Homo sapiens: one gene and its partner. The protein of the gene in region 1 purifies or fractionates together with the protein of each later gene. This does not show direct contact. Each region holds a gene or a part of one and is shown on either strand. Other genes may lie near its edges.

What was found. Proteins that work in one complex are often made in the same cells at the same time.
Region 2: the proteins of CUL2 (region 1) and KLHDC3 purify together in Homo sapiens (affinity purification with mass spectrometry; 7 studies listed by BioGRID and IntAct, with this or other methods). This does not show direct contact.

What each region holds. Positions count from the first base shown.
Region 1 is NC_000010.11:35,087,342-35,094,350, forward strand, and holds the start of CUL2 (cullin-2), read right to left. Parts: upstream 3,001-7,009; 5' UTR 2,838-3,000; intron 2,661-2,837; exon of another isoform or gene 2,555-2,660; intron 1-2,554.
Region 2 is NC_000006.12:43,010,340-43,017,270, forward strand, and holds the start of KLHDC3 (kelch domain-containing protein 3), read left to right. Parts: upstream 1-3,909; 5' UTR 3,910-4,009; intron 4,010-4,158; exon of another isoform or gene 4,159-4,875; intron 4,876-6,080; exon of another isoform or gene 6,081-6,547; intron 6,548-6,794; 5' UTR 6,795-6,853; coding exon 6,854-6,931. Other genes in the region: PPP2R5D (serine/threonine-protein phosphatase 2A 56 kDa regulatory subunit delta isoform), read left to right, coding at 129-230, 325-397, 542-658, 810-947; MEA1 (male-enhanced antigen 1), read right to left, coding at 2,131-2,282, 2,587-2,689, 2,776-3,050, 3,723-3,759. UniProt on the Homo sapiens protein: Substrate-recognition component of a Cul2-RING (CRL2) E3 ubiquitin-protein ligase complex of the DesCEND (destruction via C-end degrons) pathway, which recognizes a C-degron located at the extreme C terminus of target proteins, leading to their ubiquitination and degradation.

The DNA of each region.
Region 1 (7,009 bases):
TGATGACTCTCCATATCCATTTTCCTCTCTTCACTAGAACTTAAGTTCCATGAAGCCAGAAATTTTTTAACCACTATATCCACACATCTGGTTTAAAGCTGGTGCTTGAGAAGCCCTCGTTGGATGGCTGAATCACTCCTTAACCTCTAAGTTCCACACTTATTTCCAATCACCTACTTCTCACCTCCACTTGAACAACGAAATCCAACTTAACATGTCCAATCCAACCCCATCCCATACAACAGCCTGCTTCCCCCAACCTCTTCTTCATCTCAGTACACAGCATCATCATCCTCCAGCAGAAGCCAAAAACCCAGAATTGACCCATCCCAACTGCATGCTCATCCAAAACATGACAATTTCAATAAGTATCTTCAACTCCAAAATAAATCTCAAAACGTTTTCACTTGTACCTTAACCCTCCACAGCCACTGCTCTTCTCACTGGTCTCCTTGTGTCTCTCTTCTCCAATCAACAGTCTGATTCTCAATCAGACCTCTCAGTTTAGAAGAGTTCCAAAAGCCTTTTAATGTATCTAAGAACAAAGCCAACATGATCCAGCCCCTGGCTAGGACCCACCTTTAATCTCTTACTAGGGTCCACCTTAAGCCAATTTCAGTTTGTTCAATCCAAGTTTGATAGCACCTCAGGGTTTTTCCATTTGTTCCTCCCTAAAATAGGAAAACTGTTCCCTCAGAATTTCAAACTTCACCTCAGGAAGTTCTTTTCTGGTTACAGTATCTGAAGTAATCTCCCAATCACTACCACAACTCCTTACCTTATTTCCCACACAGCACTTATTCTCTGAGATTATTTCTTATATACTGTCTGTCTCTCCATCCCAAGCCAGAAGTGACACTCCAAGAGGATAGAAATTTAATGGGTTGGACAGGTGTGGTGGCTCACGCCTATAATCCCAGCACTCTGGGAGGCTGAGGAGGGCGGATCATGAGGTCAAGAGATCAAGACCACCCTGGCCAACATGTTGAAACCCAGTCTCTACTAAAAATACAAAAATTAGCTGGGCGTGGTGACGTGCGCCTGTAGTGCCAGCTACTCAGGAGGCTGAGGCAGGAGAATTGCTTGAACTGGGAGGTTGCAGTGAGCCCAGATCGTGCCACCGCACTTCAGCCTGGTGACAGAGCGAGACTCCGCCTCAAAAAAAAAAAAAAAAAAAAAAGAAATGTAATGTGTCTTGTTTACCCTTGTAACCTTAATGCCTGCAGCCCTGCTTGACAAATAAACCAGGTGCTTAATAAATATCTGTCAACTGCCAGACAACGCAAAAATGACTTTAAAGAAGGTCCATAACGTTTAATCTAGTGACAAACTGGTGAGGGTAAAAGACATGGATAATCTTCACATTTATAGAACACTGAAAGCCACCAGCAAGGATGGAGAATGAAGAGTATTTCAGATGCAGGAGAACATCCAAATACTCAAAAAGCAATTGAAAAGGAATTTTTCCCACGCTATGTGCATGCACATTGTAGAAATGTTCCCCCAACTCATAAACAGCAATTGAAAAAAACAAGTAATTCAAAACACTGTGGGCTGGGCGCAGTAGCTCAGGCCTGTAATCCCAGCACTTTGGGAGGCCTAAGCAGGCGAATCACCTGAGGTCAGGAGTTCAAGACCAGCCTGGCCAACATGGTGAAACCCCATCTCCACTAAAAATACAAAATTAGCCGGGCATGGTGGCGCATGCCAGTAATCCCAGCTACATGGAAGGCTAAGGCAGAAGAATTGCTTGAACCCGGGAGGCGGAGGTTGCAGTGAGCCGAGATCGCACCACTGCACTCCAGCCTGGGTGACAAGAGCAAAACTCCATCTCAAAACAAAAAAACTGTGTACTTCTCTTATCTCACGCGACTCTTTTGGAAGGATCTTCCAGATACTGTATAAGGGCAAAAGAAGCAAAGTATAGCTCATTTGTTCATGTGTCTGTCTTGAAAAGGAATGTAAGATTCTAAAGGGTAGGCAACAGTGTTTTGAATGTTTTTAAGCGATTATTATGTAGTCAGTTGTCAATCAGATCAAAGTGATTATTTCCGATACTTTACTACGAAGGTAGGCTTGGCCAGGTCTAGTTCAAAGACGTTTATGTTGAACAGTCACAATCTATAGCGAACGTTAATATTTTGCATCTTATCTTCAAAATTTAAACGCCCAGGGTACTGGCCTTCAACTGTTAATATTAATCCATGGGGCAAAGATGTGGACTTAACATTAATAACAGTCTGCAATTCACAGATGTTTTATTTGCATGCACGTAATGGTAGGGAATGGTCCAGACTCTCTAGAGGGTAAGCAAGTGCTAGAAAGCGTGTGAGGATCTTATTTCACCAGACCCTAAGGGTTGAGACAAGAAGTCTAGCATGCACGTAGGATACTCCTCCCCAAAGCTATCAATCTTTGCAGTCTGCGGAAACAAAAGTGAAAACACTCGGGGTAAGGATGCATGAGATGCCCCCCCCCACACACACACACAAACACACAGAGTTGTGTATTCGTGTGAGCACGTAAATATGTAGAAGAATACACGCACTCTCACCTTCCCTCCTTCGAAGGAAAATGGGGCCGCGGGAGAGGCGGCCAAGATCGGGTTGGGGAGGCCCGGGATCCAGTCCAGGGGGTGGCAGGGCTTACGGGTCAGCGCTCTGGGGAGCCGAGGTCACTTACAGGATACCATCTTCCCGGGCCTCCCCCTTTCATCCCTCTCCCCACACCTCGTCGCCCCCAACTCCTCTCCTCCGCCCCAGCCCCGCCACCCATTAACCGGGAAGGGAAGTTTCCCGGCGCCTGCAGCCCGGCTCCCCGACCCTCAGCGGGGTTACCTTCTGCAGAAGCAGGGCAAGGGGCAGGGGACAAGGGGAGGGGGAGGCAGCCCGAAGGAGTGAAAGACGAAGCCCCGGCGAGGAAGGTGGGCGGAGGCGGCGGCGGCGGCGGCTGTCAGCTCGCGTTCCCCTGCTCACAGCGCTGCCATTACTGTGCGCCGAGGCCGCCTCCCCGGCCGGCCGCCGCCACCGGCCCCGGAGACGCGGGGGGTGGGGAGCGAAGCCCGGGGAGCCCGCGCGCCGACACTCACCTGTCTCCGCGAGGAAAGACAGCAAAGTCCAAGGCCGCCGCCGCTCCCCGGCGGGACAGGGGCGGTAGGGAGGGGGGGAAAGGGGAGAAGGACGGGCCGATCACGGGATCCGTAAAACAATCGTCCTCCTCTGCCTCCGGCTTTGCCCAACACACACCCTCCGGTCTCCTTCTTCCGCTGCTGCCAAATCCCCCCCGCCACCCGGAAAGCAATGGTACAGGCCGCGTTACGGCAAGCGCAGGGAGCCAAGCTTCGTGTGATTGCGAAAGGCCACGGAAATTAATATTCCAAGTGATTCCTTGCTGGGCTTGCTGTCAATGAGGCAATTGCGGTTCGCTGAGCTGATGGACACAGTACCCACCCACTACCCGTTAGTTCAGGGACTGCTAATAACAATATGTTGGAATGGTGCTTTCAACAGAAGTATGTTTTCCTTGTTTCAGACCTATGTGAATATCCTAAGACACCACAATCCTCTTGCCACACACTTCCATGGGCTTTGCAAATGATCAAAAATAAATTAGCAAAACTACTTTTCCTCTCTGACAAACTCTTTTTCTTGTTAGTTTTTATCTACAGAGAATTTCTTGGACATACATGTATTTTCGATAAAGAAACTTCACATCTTTTTCACTAATACCCCACCTTCACCAAGCCCCAAGCCTATCAGTTTGAAGGGTTTTCCTCCCTTGGAGTTTTAAACGGTAAAGCTGATAAAAATATAGAATTACTCATCACCTCCTCATATATGCAGGGCCACAGAGGAACAAAAGCCCGGCCTTAGTGCTTTTTGCCTTTCATATCCTCAAGAGCTCACCATCAGGGTCTTGTTCATTTATACGATTCAGCAAGCTTTTCCCTCCCATCCCTTCCTTCCAAACTGCACGAACCCTTCAAGGCCCATTTAAAACCCTGCCTCCAGACCTGATCAGTCCCTAGAGCCTTCCTCCTCTTCTAATCTGCTTCTCTTGGTACTTGAAGTCTCTACTCTTTATTTCAGTAAAGGGTTTTTATATACGAAATTCAATCCAACAGTATGTTTCCATTATGTGACCTTTTTTTCCTCCCATGTTTTCCCCCTTTTAATCTAGTGATTCTCAAAGTGTGGTCCCCAGACCTCTGGAAATCCCTGAGACCTTTACAGAGGTCATAAGGTTAACAACTAGTTTGTTAACAATGCAATATGTCTGGTCCTTTTTTTTTTTGGATACAGAGTCTTGCTCTGTCACCCAGGCTGGAATGCAGTGGCGGCACAATCTCAGCTCACTGCAACCTGCACCTCCCGGGTTCAAGTGATTCTCCTGTCTCAGCTTCCCGAGTAGCTGGTATTACAGAAGCCCGCCACCACACCCGGCTAATTTTTTGTATTTTGTAGAGACAGGGTTTCACCATGTCACCACATTGCCCAGGCTGGTCTTGAACTCCTGAGCTCAGGCAATCCACCCACCTCAGCCTCCCAAAGTGCTAGGATTACAGGCCTGAGCCACCGTGTCAGGCCCCCCCTGCTTTTTGTTTTGTTTTGTTTTTGTTTTTGACACAGGGTCTCCCTCTGTCGCTGAGGCTGGAGTGCAGGAGTGCAGTGGCCTGATCATAGCTCACTGCGGCCTCAAACTCCTGGGCTCAAGCGAGTGTACCATCTCAGTTTCCGAAGCAGCTGTGACTACAGGCGCGTGCGCCACCACACCCAGCTAATTTTTGTATTTTTGGTAGACATGGGGTCTCACTATGTTGCCCAGGCTCCTCTGGAACTCCTGAGCTCAAGCGATCTGCCCACCTCAGCCTCCCAAAAGTTCTGGGATTACAGGAGTGAGCCACCATGCCTGGCCTCCTCTGTCTTTTTGACTGAGTTTGTTTTTGTACTGATGGTGCAAAGGAATACGGACACTATTGATGCCTTAGCAGGGATCAAGACAGTGCCACCAACCTGTCCGGGTGGTCATTGGATCGCTGTATTCTTCACTGCCATACATTCCCAGTTTTTAAGGCTATTGATTTAGGAATATCCTGGATGAAGCGGAAGCATTAATTTTATTAAATTTTGGCCCTTGAATACAAGTCTTTCTAATACTCTGTGTGAAGAAATGGGAAGTACACATGCACTTCTGCATGCCAAAGTGGGATGGCTGTCTTGAAGAAAAGCACTTGTGTGGTTGACTTACAGGCTGAACTACCTGCATTTTTCATGGTGAAACTGCCTTTGCAAAACATGATAGTAAGAGGAATCTGACCTCATTGATTTAATCTTGCTTCTGACCTCCAAGGTGTTCCTGGTCATTCCTGGGCATAGGCCAACTTAATTTGGGGAGGAAGTTAGTTTATGGTTTAACTTGAAAGCTAAGTTCCTCCCTAAAACTACCCCTGCTCTTGCTTAGGGATGAAAAACCACCTTTGGAAGACTAATGAAAAGCAGCAAGAATAGGATTATGGGAGGGGTGTGAACTTTGCTAAAGTGTAGGCATATTTCTATTAATATACTCCCTTACTGCTCAGGGGTCATGTGGCCAGAGGTCACAAGATTTGTGACTTCCCCAGTTGCTCCTATAAATAACATCAGTATTGTACAACTTTAGATTGCTTTTTGAGATATTTTTCAGACTGACCCCACCTGGACTCGTGACTCATGACTCAGAACTGGTCCTATGGCCCCACCCAGAGGCAGGCTCAGCACTCAAGGACTGTTTTCCACACCCCTATGATTCCATCCCCAACCCATCAGCAGAACCCATTCTCTAGTCCCCTGCTCACCAAATTGTCCATAAAAACCCCAACCTCCAACCCAGGGGGAGACTGATTTGAGTGATAACTCCAGTTCTCCTATGTGACTGGCCTTGGGTCAATTAAACACTTTCTCTACTGCAATACCTTGGTCTCGGTGAATTTTGTCTGTGCAGTAGCCAAGAAGAACCCATCTGGCCATTACAATGGAAGGCCATTTTTACTTGAAAGAACAATTGACAGACTTGGTGGCTCATGCCTCCCAGCACTTTGGGAGGCTGAGGTGGGCAGATCTCTTGAGTGTAGGAATTTGAGATCAGCCTGGACAATATAGCAAAACCCCATCTCTACAAAAAATACAAAATTTAGCCAGGCATGGTGGTGTGTGCTGGTAGTCACAGCTTCTTGGGAGGCTGAGGTGGGAGAATCACTTGAACCTGGGAGGCAGATGTTGCAGTGAGCCAAGATCACGCCATACTGCACCCAGCCTGGGCAATAAAGGCAGACCTTCTCTCAAAAAAAAAAAAAAAAAAAAAAGAAAAGAAAAGAAGAAGAAATTACCACTTGTTGAATTTCACTATAGTATCAAAGAAGAATATCCATAATTATCCAAAAAGACTATTTAATTTTCTTTCAAAGGCCTGAGTTTCTTCATATATTTCAACCATAGAGAACCTAGCTATCTTCTATTAAATCAAATATTTAGAGAGTTGCAAAAATACAAAAGCAATCCTTTTCCTCTGATCAAATTTTTTTTATTTTGGAAAATATGGTTATTTTTCATAAAAGCATGCAATTTATGTTAAATGTGTTTGGTTTATTATTTTTAAAATTAATCAGTAATTTAAAAATTTTTATCCTTTAAATTTCTAATACAATAACTATTTATAGATAGATAGTTTCCTGAGGCCTCCCTAGACACTGAGCAGATGCCAGGATCGTGCTTCTTGTACAGCCTGCAGAACCATGAGCCAATTAAACCTCTTTATTTCATCAATTACACAGTCTCAGGTATTTCATTATAACAATACAAGAATGGCATAATACAATAGATATAACCCACATGAACATAAGCTCTTCTAAGTCCTCGATAATTTTTTTTTTTTTTGAGATGGAGTTTCGCTCTTGTTGCCCAGGCTGGAGTGCAATGGTGCGATCTTGGCTCACTGCAACCTCCGCCTCCCAGGTTCAAGCTATTCTCCTGCC
Region 2 (6,931 bases), on another chromosome or scaffold:
GTTTGTGAACTGGAAGTAGTAAATGACAAAGCTCTTAGCAGAGATACCCCTGTGAGAGAACAAATTGGGTTCCTCACGCTAAGGGCAGGCTCTGGCCTCCTACACCTCATCTTTCTTCTTGGTGGCAGGACAATCCATGGACTGATCTATAATGCCCTGAAGTTGTTTATGGAAATGAATCAGAAGCTGTTTGATGACTGCACACAACAATACAAGGCAGAGAAGCAGAAGTGAGTATCTCTCTCCCCGGGAGACTTTCATCTTCTACCACCAGCTCACTGTGTTTCTCTCAAGCCCAACCCCAATCCTACTTTTGCTCCTCAGGGGCCGGTTCCGAATGAAGGAAAGGGAAGAGATGTGGCAAAAAATCGAGGAGCTGGCCCGGCTTAATCCCCAGGTGAGGTTTTCCTGCCACTGTTGTGAACTGAGGGGCCAGCCCATCTTGAGCTGGGGGAGAGTTTGTTGGGGGAGGAATATGGGGCACACAGGCCCCCAAGCCTCTGAAGTGGCTCTTAACGCTTGTCCATGTCTCCTCACTCAGTATCCCATGTTCCGAGCCCCTCCACCACTGCCCCCTGTGTACTCGATGGAGACAGAGACCCCCACAGCTGAGGACATCCAGCTTCTGAAGAGGACTGTGGAGACTGAGGCTGTTCAGGTGGGAGGGCAATGTAGGGGGATGGAGCAGAAATAATAGCTCTGGAAGGGAGAGGAGACAGAAACAGCAGAGCCAAAGAATAAGGGGACGGAACAATAGAATTCACTGGGAATTGGTCACCATTCCTCACCTTGTCCCTATTCACACACAGATGCTAAAAGACATCAAGAAGGAGAAAGTGCTGCTGCGGAGGAAGTCGGAGCTGCCCCAGGACGTGTACACCATCAAGGCACTGGAGGCGCACAAGCGGGCGGAAGAGTTCCTAACTGCCAGCCAGGAGGCTCTCTGACCCCTCACGTTCCTACCACAGGGCCACAGCCCACACAGCCCTGGGACACTGCCCTGGCCCTCCATACTCTGCTCCCTACTGGCTGTCTTGGGGGAAGGCAGCGCCTCTCTAGCTACTCAAGGGAGGGGGATGTGGGCACTTGAAGCAGGGACACCCACAGAATGGTCCCTCTTCTCCCCAAAAGGTGTTCATGCCTCCCTGTGGCTAGTACAGGCTGAGCACTAAGATGCTTAGTGCTCAGACAACCTGGGGATGCCTGTCCCCTACCTGCTCCTCACCCACAGCTACCTGAGGCTGCTCTGAGAAGTACACACAGGAATACATACGCTCCTCTATTCTTCCCTTCATCCTCATTTGAACGCCAGGTATCTCCCCTCCTCTCTCTCCCCTGCAGAGGCATGTAGGGAACAGCAGGAGATTATTCTCACCAAAGTTATGTCAAGCCCCATTGGTCCCAGAGTAGCTGAAGGGAAGCCAACCCCCCTGCAGCACAAATAGGCCCCCCAGTCCCAGCCGTGTGCTGGCAGATAGGGTTGTATTATTTCTTCTTACCCCATGCCTGACCAAGGGAGGTCAAAAGGAGAAAAGTATAGGCTGTGGACAATAACTGATGAATATAGGGCCCAGATGGACCAAGTGGGGCCGGGGAGGGATGAATAAACACCCTACCCCGTGCCCTGTCTTTGGTGAGCAGCAGCCCTGGGGTCACAGACATGGAAGGGACCACCCTGGGGCTGACTGCTTTTCTGTGCTGTTGGTTCCCAAAACTAGAAAGAAGGAAGCAGGGAGCGGTGCCCCAAGCATGGCTCCTGCCAACACCTATTTATTTCCTTGTTTGTGCTATGCTGGGCAGGCCTTCTCTTGTCCCTTATAGGTACCTTGGAGGGGCCAGGGGCTGAGGAAGGCCGGACCCAGGTTCCAGGGGCGCAGGCAGTGCGGCTTTTGGCTGTGTACATAGGGTGCTTTATTCTCCACAGAGTGATACATGCTAAGGTGGGTTGGGCTTGGACCGATGTCCCCATATGTACAGAACTGAATAAAGTGGGTCTCTGAGAAGTCTGATGTGCCTTGATGTGGAAAGGGAGACGGGGAAGATGGAAATGGACATTACAACCAGGGATGTGTTCAGTCCTGTGCTGGTTCTGGCCTGGAATGTAGGAATATAAGGCAGCTCTCACTGTGGTCACTTCCAGGCAGGGGATGCCTGCCGGGCTTGGAGGGCTTTCTGTACCACATCTTCCCACTGGGCATCCGATATCTCCCGAGCCCAGGCAGGAACCCCTGGCGCAGGCAGGCTTACTCCAGCCATTGTCCTTTTCACCAGCTCTACATGTTCTGAAATCAGAGCCAGAGGCCATTCAGGCATAGAAATAATGGGACCAGCTCCCCTCCCCAATCCCCGAATCAACCCAGAGCCCTTGGGCTGCTAGGGTCACCAAATCCACCTTGTTACTTTAAGGCAAGCCTGCCCATCCCCAAAGCTAGCAAAAGAGCATTTCACTTGGACTCTGAAGTCTACAAAATCTTAGTTTACAAACTATCTTTTTAGGATAGGGTCTTCCTCTGAAACTTCCTTCTACTGACTCATGCCAGTTCATTTCCTTAGTAATTATTCCAGAATGAAAGAATGATCTTTTACCTGGGTCCATGGGAATAGAGCTGTGGTTGTTCAACGCTGTAGCTCCCTCCTCATCTTCATCTTCACTCTCTAATGGTGGGTCTGGCAAATGAAGCCCCAGGGCCTGCAGAGCCACAGAAGACCGTTTGGGTCTAGGCTTTCAGGGAGCCCAGCTTCACCTGTTCAGGAACCATCCCTCCTCCACCCTACCTGGATTCGATCCTGGATGTCAGCAACTACATCTCCATCCCCCACTGGTGCCAGTTCCACCTCCTCTTGTTCAGGATCTTGGTTCAGGGGCTGGTAGGAGTAGCCAGCTGGGCCCGACCCCGTTTCCTCCTGCTCTTCCTCAGGCTCCTCACTGCTCCAATCCCCAGTGCCTTCTGAAGGGCCCTGATGTCCCAGTTCCTCAGTCTGATTGGGGAAGATACGCTCAGGGCCCATGGTGTCTCCTCCTAGAACTACTGTTGCCATCCGGGCAGGGGCTGCAAGAACAGGGAGGCGGTAGGACAGGGATCGGATGAAACCAGGCCCATCTTCATCCTCTCATCATCTCCTTGTAGTCTCCTGCGTGCAAAAAACCAGCTCCTCCCCGAGGCTCCTGCATCCTCCACCCCTCCGCCCCAATTCCAGCCTCTCGTTCCTCCCCCTCCTAAGTCGGGGTTCTTATCTTGAACCAGGCCCCACCAACTTGCTCCGCCACTTCCTAGTTAAACGCCCAACCGGAGGCCCTGCCACCTCCTAAAAGACACCCCTTCCAGAACCCCGGCTCCCCGCGCCACGCCTCCCCCGCGACTTGGGAACTCTGGGTCATCAGACTCCCCTAAACAGGTCGGCGTACCCGCCCCCTTCTCCCCTCTCCTAGAGGACCCCCTCTGTACCGCCTGACAGATGCCTTTCAGGCCCCATGGGCTCCCCTCAAATGGCCCCAGCTGCAGCGTCCCCCACCCGCCCCCATCCGAATCCCGGCGCCGGTGTTCCCGCGCGCCTCACCCGCTCAGAGCCCGCGGCCTCCACTTCCGGCGGGGCAGGACGTGCAGAGGTGCCTAGTCCTCCAGCCCCGCCCCATATCCATGATTGACGCTGGCGAGGACGAGGAGTCCGCCCCTTGCCCCGCCTCCGTCATTCCCAGCCCAAAAAACAAAGGACTGCATTACCCAGTGGCCTCCTCGGTCTCGACACATATTTGCACATGCGCAGAATCTCTCCTACGCCCCTGCCCACTCCTCAGCCCTCTCGTCCCTCAGGAAACGTATGGACTACAAGTCCCGAAATGCCTCCGGCACTTAGCTACGACTGCACGTGCGCGCACAGCTGCCCGCCGGAAGAACCGAGCTTGGCTGTGTTTATCTCGTTGGGGACTAAGGCGTCGGTTGGCGCGCAACGGGTTCTAGGCTGCAGGCAGCTCGAGGACCCGCGGCCCCGCCCCGGCTCGGCCTGGCAGGTAGCCTGGGATGGGTAGAAGGGCAAGGGAGAATTAGGGGGCTTAGGACGTGCTGTCTGGAGCTGGAGTGGCGGGGGAGGGGCCTGAGAGTGATGAGGTGGGGGTGGGGAGGGAGCTAGGGGGATGATGGGAAAGGAGAGTGTTAATGGGGAAAGCAGGGCTAGGGGAGGATGGCGAGGAGATGGGTAGGAGAGACCTGGTGTCTGGAGGAAGCAATGAAGGAAATGGGAAGGAAGACTGGGCCATGAAAACAGGGAAGCTGAGCATAATGGAAGGGGAGGGGTGTCTGGCGTGGTGGGCTAGGGGAGGCCGGAATGTCTGGAAGAAGACAGGGATAGAGTCATATGCAGAGAGGGGTATCGTGGTCAGTGCATGCTAATTTTTCTTTCCTTAGTGGAGGTGGGAAAATGGAGGGCTGTTGGGTGGAGCTTGGAATGGTAGGAGAAGGAAAAATGAGAAAACTGCAAAGCTCTCACGAGATCAAGAAGGGCGAGAAATGGGGAATAAAAAATGCAAGAGACCAGGCGGGTAGATACATTAAGGGAATAGAAGAAGTTTGAAAATGCTTGGTGGTGATGGAGGACTGGGGAGACCCAGGGATAAGAGGAGCCCCTGAGCGCCTGGGGGCTTGTTCTCCTTGAATTTGAGTTGTTTATATGGCAGAGAAACTAAAATTTTTTTTCTCCACCTTTGGCTGGAATTGCTTATCTCCTCTCCTGTGCATATTTTACTTTACCTTGACATATCTGAAGGGAAGAATAGAGAATATAAGGGAGGATGGAAGACTTCCATTCTTAAGCCCATCGACCTCCTAACAGTCTCCACAAGCCCAGACCCAAGATATTTTGGAGAGCGGGAGTAATGAAGTGAGAGTAGCTTCCTGCTGGGGCTATTTCAGGATGGGTCCCATGGCTATTTAAAGCTTAGGGTGTGGAGTTGGGGGAGGTTGGGTGGGTGGGACTAGCAAGCCAGCTGAAAGCCATGTCTCTTTCCTGCAAGGGGCCTCCCTTATTTGAGCTGTTTTAGTGCCTGAGGTTTTGCCTGGCCCTTTCCTCTGCCAGGGCTTCTTAAACAGGGAGCAGATGATGATACACCCAAACTCAGGAGATGCTTGCCAGCAAAAGCATTGTCAGTTGCAAGGATTTGCCTGAAAAAACCTCAGATGTACCCAGGTGTACGTGCCACTAGGTTGACAGGTTGTGTTTAAGAGACCATGACCAGCTGGGCATGGTGGCTCACGCCTGTAATCCCAGCACTTCAGGAGACCGAGGACGGTGGATCACCTGAGGTCAGGAGTTTGAGACCAGCCTGGCCAACATAGTGAGACCCCATCTCTACTAAAAATACAAAAATTAGCTGGGCATGGTGGCAGGCGCCTGTAATCCCAGCTACTTGGGAGGCTGAGGCAGGAGAATCGCTTGAACCCGGGAGGGAGGCAGAGTTTGCAGTGAGCTGAGATTGCACCATTGCGCTCCAGCCTGGGGGCAAGAGCGAGACTTCATCTAAAAAAAAAAAAAAAAAAAAAGACCATGACTTCTCATGCTGGATCTTTCTCTTGTCCTGCCCAAGGGCATTTTTTGCCTCCCTTCCCCTTTTTTTTTGTTTTGAGACAGAGTCTCGCTCTGTCGCCAGACTGGAGTGCAGTGGTGTGATCTCGGCTCACTCCAACCTCCGCCACCCGAGTGCAAGCAATTCTCCTGCCTCAGCCTCCTGAGTAGCTGGGACTACAGGTGCGCGCCACCGTGCCCAGCTAATTTTTGTATTTTTAGTAGAGACGGGTTTCACCATGTTGGCCAGGATGGTCTCCGTCTCTTGATCTCGTGATCCACCTGCCTCGGCCTCTCAGGGTGCTGGGATTACAGGTGTGAGCCACTGTGCCCAGCCCCTTCCCCTTTGCATTGCACACTCCCACCTCTATCCGCCTTTCAGGAACCCAAGTTGTGGAAGAGCTTGTTCTCTCTTTTCTACTGGAAATGGCTTGTTCTCTACCACAGTAGCAGGGATGGGGAAGTGGCAGGAGGAGAAAACCCCTCCCTCTATCACCATCCCCCAAGCCTAAGCATACACATACCTTTCTGGCTTAAGTCCTGGCAGCATACCAGGCACAGCTGTCAAAGGAACTCCTTGTGCCTGTGGGGGGCCCTGGGTGACCCCAATGACAACAACTCAGCTTGACAGGAGCTCCCTGTGAGGGGCTAACCAACCGCGGTAACATGGAGGTCCCTGTCCTGGATCAGTCCCGCCCTATCTTGGGTAGGGGGATTGTTCCACTCTAAAAGCCTGAAAGCTTTTCTGCTTTGAGGCACTCATGCCAGCTTTCAATGGACTGTTTGAGGCTGGCTGGGCTATTAATAGCTGTGAGTATTTTGAGATCCCTTTCCCCACCTCAAAGAACACAGATTCTTAGAGAGGTGGCAGTAAGCAGAGCAGAGACAAGAGAATATACCGTTTGGGAAGGGGGCTTCAAGTTTGTGCCAAGCCAGGGACAGAGTGGAGCCTCCACGAGTAGGTTGTGACCATGATATGCAGATTCTGAGCTGGCAATCAGGTGGGGGTGGCCCCACCCTTCACTGTTGGAGAACACTGGGCCCAGGCTGCTCCCTGACCTCGGCAGCTCCCTTGGGGCAGGGCCAGCCACCTGAGCTGAGACTAGTGCCCCTGTGGAGGGGTAGTGTGGGAGGGCCCCCAGGGTGACACTTGGAGGCAAAGGCTGGTTCTGGGCAGAGTCACAGTGAGCTGGGCAGAAGCCTCGCCTGAGGATCCCGTGGCCCCAATTTGTGTGCAGATAGCAGAGGCAGCAGGCCGTGCCGGGGGGGCATGTTGCTGTAACCAGTGGCCCAGGGGATGTTACGGTGGACAGTGCACCTGGAGGGCGGGCCCCGCAGGGTGAACCATGCTGCAGTGGCTGTCGGGCATCGGGTA